Regions from separate parts of the Homo sapiens genome. Here region 1 is linked to region 2. Evidence: fine-mapped expression QTL. A gene starts in region 2. The other region holds a variant in brackets. All regions are shown on one strand. Distances are from middle to middle. Region 1 has its middle 36 kb from the start of COL2A1. Region 2 holds the start of ASB8 (ankyrin repeat and SOCS box containing 8).

The links. PIP is the estimated chance that this variant, and not a neighbour inherited with it, causes the effect.
Region 1: its variant is the best candidate, but not a certain one, in a credible set for the expression of ASB8 in whole blood (INTERVAL, PIP 0.55).

What each region holds. Positions count from the first base shown.
Region 1 is chr12:48,039,463-48,042,373 of GRCh38, forward strand. No RefSeq gene overlaps it. Among named protein-coding and RNA genes, the nearest start is that of COL2A1, 36 kb to the left of the region's middle. The variant A/T (reference allele first, on the strand shown) is at 1,494.
Region 2 is chr12:48,156,041-48,158,951 of GRCh38, forward strand. It overlaps ASB8 (ankyrin repeat and SOCS box containing 8), which reads right to left and starts at 1,475. Exons shown (of 4, transcript NM_024095.5): 1 at 1,419-1,475. RefSeq lists enhancers at 1,259-1,781, 1,286-1,335, 1,356-1,405, 1,436-1,655.

The sequences.
Region 1 (2,911 bases), 120 kb before region 2:
GAGTGGTTTGGGATAAAGGCTGACTCTGACCCATGGTTAGGTCCAGGTCCCCATTCGCAGGGACAGTCTATTGCCTGACTGGTGATACCTGGTGCAGACCCAGGCATTCGTCAGCTATTTTTAACCACATTCAGGAATCAGGAGAGCGAACGTGGCTTGAAGATTTCCCTAGTCACTCCATATTCAATTGGCTTCAAAGTCTTAACCATGACTAAAAGAAAACCTTAGAATTTGAGAACATCCTGGGGACAAGAAGAGGATCTTCTAACCCAACATAGAGAAAACTGTTCCCCCAAAATAATAGATTTTTGAGAAGTTGGTGCTTTCTTATGTTTTACTGTCATGAGTGTGAGTTTTACAGGTAGAAAAGTGGCAAGCACTTCACTTCGAAGTTATATTGTGAGAAGAAAGGGGTGCAGGAGAGGAGCAAGAACAGAAGGCCACAGTTAGCAGGGTGGGTTGGAAGTCCTGATTGGTGTGTTTGGCCTCAGGAAAGTTCTTTGGCAGCCTCCACAGACAGGTTTGGTTTTTTAAAGTGCCAAAGAGCCACAAATTTGCATGTTATTTGCGTTCCAGGCTTCACTTCCAGGTATATGGGATGAAATAAATGAATGAACAGTATTCAGACTCCTGGGTAAGGGGTGGACTCAGAAATCCAGACCACACCGAGGATCCAATCACTGGTCCAGCTTGGATCGGGAGACACAGGCACAGACAGAGACAGAGCAAACAGCCACAGAGACAGGGGGACAGAGAGACAAACACCATCAAGTCCTTTTTACCAGGGAGTTTCCAGTCAAAGCAAGAAAGCAAGATCCACAGTTTATTTTAAATAAGTCAACTTTTTAAAAATTAGGAAGAATCATATAGATAGGCAGATAAAGGCAACATTATCCCTGACTTACCTCCACCTTTGCCCCTTCATCCTCTACTTCTAGTTCTGTATGGAACTACATGCCTATGAGTCTGCCTTCTTGATAAGGTATATTGCTTGGTGTTTGCTTAGCTTCCTAAATTAGTTAACTATAAGGTCTACAGACTCTAATACAGACTCTAAGATCCTGAGGACAAGGTCAGCAGGCTATAAAAACCTGAGAACAAGGTGGCTTTTATTTCCATAGTCAAACCATCTTTTCACTCCACCCTTCAGGGCGACTAAGGCCAGTGCTTAAACACGTGCTTGTAAAACACCTAGCCTGAGGGGCTTCCTCAGAGTCTCAGTCTATGAGGGATGCACAATATCACCGGAAATAAAAAGGATGGAGGAAACTATTTAACAGAAAGCTGTGTAGAGAAAATACTTCCACAAGGCCCCTGGTAGAGACTGAGAACCCCCACCCACCCCAAAGAGCATGCTAAATGCTGAGGAAGGTGTTTTTGTTAAGGGTAGAGTGGAGCGTTAGGTTTGAGGCCAGAGATGAACGATTTGGGACCACAAAGGAGGTTGCAGGCTGCCATGAGCAGTCCTCCTTTCTTCACAATATATTTTTTTT[A/T]AATTTTTGTGTTGCCCAGGCTGATCTCGAACTCTTGGGCTCAAGGGATCCTCCCACCTCAGCCTCCCAATGTGCTGGGATTACAGGTGTGAGCCACTATGCCTGGCCCACAATGTTGTCTTTCTAAATAAATGTTGAATAATTACCTCTACCTCATCACTGGCAGGCCAGAAAGAAACAGCTTTTATTCCTGGTTTGAAAAAAAAGCACCAAATCATTTACCTGCCCTTGGTGGCTACATGTCTCAGTCCATTCATGATGCAAAAGGTGAATTACAATACAAATACCATGTGGACTTATATTATTTTCTGATTATAAGGGCTGCAGATGTCCAGATGAGAGATATTAAGATCATGTGATCAGGGAAGGCATCAAAGAGATAGGATTTGCGTACGATTACTCAGTAGGTATTTGTGAAAAGAATAAAAGTAAATTGAATGAGGGGTCTCCAGTGGACTGGACTCTGGACTTCTTGTGTGCCACTCTCCCACACTTTTTCCTTTCCTAGCACTTGTGTTCTGCAAAGGATAAGGCAATCTCCAGAAGTAAGGAATTGATGGCTACTCCTTAGATTGGAATGGAGAAAATTCTGCAGCTAAGGTCTTGTCGCCTTAACTCTAAAACCAAGCCAGTGCTAAGCCAGTGGCCTTAAAAATTTAACTTTGAATCTCTGCCTTGACTTCCTCTTCCCAGCAACATTGTGGCACTTAATACCATTCCAGAATCTTAGAGTTTGATAAGACCCCTGGACACGTGGTCCAACCATTCACATAATTGGAATTATCCCTACCATCTCCCTGACAGGCCAAAGAGACAGCTCACAATAACATTTCCTCGAGGTCCCAGCTCAAAGCCTCCTAGCCACTCTTTTCTCTCCCACAAAGGAAGTATGTGTAAGGTATCCTTTATTTTAACAGGTGACCAGCATAACCCTCTGTCCCACGTTTCCTTTTCCACCTTCAAAGCTGGGAATGGTAGTGTGTGTTCTTAGTAGACAGATGTTAGGAGTCAGTACAGGTAAAACAAGGCCCTAGACTTATAATAAAGGATGCTGGGATGAGCCTTGTCCCTTCCCATGGAATTCCAAGCTGTAGATGCATTGCTCCTGGGCGGGAAAATAAGGTACCCTTCCCAGTAGTTCAGCACGTGGCCTGTTTAACAATAGGGCCTAATAGCCTAACACCTCTTTTTCTGACTCTCTTGGGTATGTGAACTCCCAGGGTGAAAGCATCATATTCCACCTCATGCTAGTCCATCCAGGTGGACCAAACAAAAAGAAACCCCAGGTGTCAGTCCTCTCTCTTACTCCAGCAAGACATATTTAAAAGCTGGAGGGATGGCACAGGACCAGAAACTGAAACATTAAAAACATTGGGGCTCTCAAGTGAACTCTTCCCCCTTTACCCACTAGAGCCACT
Region 2 (2,911 bases):
TGCTGGGATTACAGACATGAGCCACCATGCCCGGCCTATTTTTGCTTTTTGTGATTGTGTATCCCTTTATATATTATATACTATAAATTCTGATAGTTTCTATTTTGTGAATCAGTAGCCATTTATAGTAGATGTAAATTCCATTAAAAGAATGCAAGTAAAAATATTCATATGTATCGATAATTCAAATTAGGTATTTTTCTCCCGTTATCATGCACGGATAAGCTGACACACTTGTTTATATGTCTCTATGACATTTTCTAGATAGTTTAGATTTGGCATGTGTTTTAATCTCTCCAGTAGCCACTAAACTGCTCTGAGACAAGTATCTGTATCTTATAATTTTTTTGTTTCAAGGAAAAAAAAAGACAAGTGCATTTGAGTTGGTAATTCCAAGAATGGCAGCAGAAGACAGAGCATCTAAAGCAGGAGGCTTGGACCAAAGTGGTTCTGTTGCCTGTAATCCCAGCACTTTGGGAGGCCAAGGCAGGAGGAACTCTTGAACCTGGAAGTTCAAGACCAGCCTGAGCAACATGGCGAGACGACCCCAAAACCCAATCGTCTCTACAAAAAAATTCAAAAATTAAAATAAATAAATAAAGTCGTTTTGTTAACCATTTCTGGGCCATGATAATCGGATGAAACTAAATCCTGAACTAATTTCCCGGGCGCTCTTGGGCTCTGGGCTAAGAACTCCTGAGAGTATGGTCAGTGGTCTGCTGCTGCCTGGAAGCTCCCGGTAAAGGAATGAAACTTCAGGGCAGACAGCATTCACTTCAGGAATGGTCAAGGAAAGCTAAATTCGATCTCACTAGACAGCAGCCCGTGTAAGGTTTGATCCCCTTGGAAGGCCCTTTCCTCTGCTAGAGCTGAAAGCCCTGTCTCCCTCGTTTTCTTTTGCTACGGGATCCAGAGAAAACACCAAAGGGCACTTACTGAGAAGCTGAAAAAAAAAAAAAAAAAAAGCAAACTGGAAAAGAGAAGACACAACAGCTCTGATGCGAGGGAGGCCTCGGCCCCGCCCCCTCCCGCCCCGGGAGAACCTTGGCCGAGCCTGCAGCGCCCGTAATCCCCACCGCACCTGCTGCGGGAGGGCCCGCGGCAGCTGTCTCGCTGAGGCTAGGGGGCGGGGGGCAAGGGCACGAAACGCAAGGACGTGCGGTGTCACTTTCTGCACGGGCTCTAAACAGATCGCAGCAATCCCGGTAGGTCCGGTACTGAAAGAGAATCACGCAATTTGCGCTGGGGGGCCTCAGACGCGGACCAACCCCCTCTTCGATCTGCCTTCTAAGGCCCGGAAATAAGTCTCAGCCTCGAGAACTAGAGCACTTCGACCAGGGAGTAGAGGAAGCGTTATTGGGCGTGGTACCCTGGGTTAGGAAACCTGGCTGTAGACCCACTCCAAGGACCGCACTCACCGAATTGCTGGGCTGAGGTGGGGGTTGAAAGCCGCTGTCAAGGCGTGACCCGGAAGCAGAAGCTGTCGGGGGCAGGCCCTCTGTTTACCGGACTAGAAGACCAACTAAGATGGGCGCCTGCGCACTGATGAGTGTTCGTCAGCGGGGCGCGCCTGCGCAGACTTGTGCAGCAGCTTTCGCCCTCCAGAGGCCTAGTTAGGGGGTTACTTTCTCCTTTTACTCAGAGGCTTTGCGCGCAGGCTCAGTGCAGCGTTCTCGGCCACAGCCGCAGGGTTCGGGTCTTGGTCCTGCAGCGGGGATAAAAAAGCTCAGGAACCCTGAGTGTTGGGCCGATTCTATATGGTTGCACCTGCGTGGACCAGGCCAGCAGGGGTCCATCCACAATGGTTCAGTTGCTTAGGAGACTAAACTCTTAGTAGGAAGTGTCTTTGACAAAAATACTTACAGCATTATTCATAATGGTGGAACGAATCTATGCTCCTTAGAACCCTCCTGTACATGTCCACCCTCCTTCAAGTAAACCATATCAAAGACAAACTCAACCACCCAAGAGGTGTAGTATTCTAAATGTAGAGGAATAAATGACCTTTATAACTCTTATTAGGGTTAATGAAACTTCCCGCACAAAAACATGATGACACCTCTGAGTGACAGACTTTCTGTGCAAAGCATAAACATTTTGAAGTCAGCAGCACATGGTGGTGGTGCATGGAAGGAGTGAAGCAGCAGCCCATTTAGGCAGACTGCAAGAGTTGTGGTCTGCCCGGTAGCCTGTTTAACCAGAGTGCCCCACACCTACTCCCCAGAGCTTGTTCTAAGCAACCAAATCTAACCAATTAGAGATTTAAAGCAGGCCCAGACAGATCATGTACATCAGTAAGAGGATGGTAAACTGAAAGTTCATGACCTGGTCTGAGGAGTGGGCCTCCTTTGAGCTCCAGACTCAAAGGAATTTTGCCAGGTAGGAATATGCCCTCCACTTCCTGCCACTGCACCATGGTGAGATCGTCCATTTTTCAAAAGAAGCTGAAATACAGATTTTTTTTAAAAAGTGAATTTTTCCAAGTTGCAAATGTTGGCAATGTTTTTATTATTATTATTATTATTATTATTATTATCATCATCATTATTTATTTTTGAGATGTAGTTTCGCTCTTCTCACCCAGGCTGGAGTGCAATGGCGTGATCTCGGCTGGCTGCAACCTCAGCCTTCCGGGTTCAAGTGATTCTCCTGCCTCAGCCTCCTGAGTAACTGAGACTACAGTCACCTGCCACCACACCTGGCTAATTTTTTTTTTGTATTTTTATTAGAGATGGGGTTTCACCATGTTGGCCAGGCTGGTCTCAAACTCCTGACCTCAGGTGATCCACCCTCCTCGGCCTCCCAAAGTGCTGGGATTACAGGCATGAGTCACCACACTGGACCACATCTCTCAAATTTCTTGGTTGGGAAATGCTGAAGTATATAAATTCTGGGAAACCATCAGCATCTT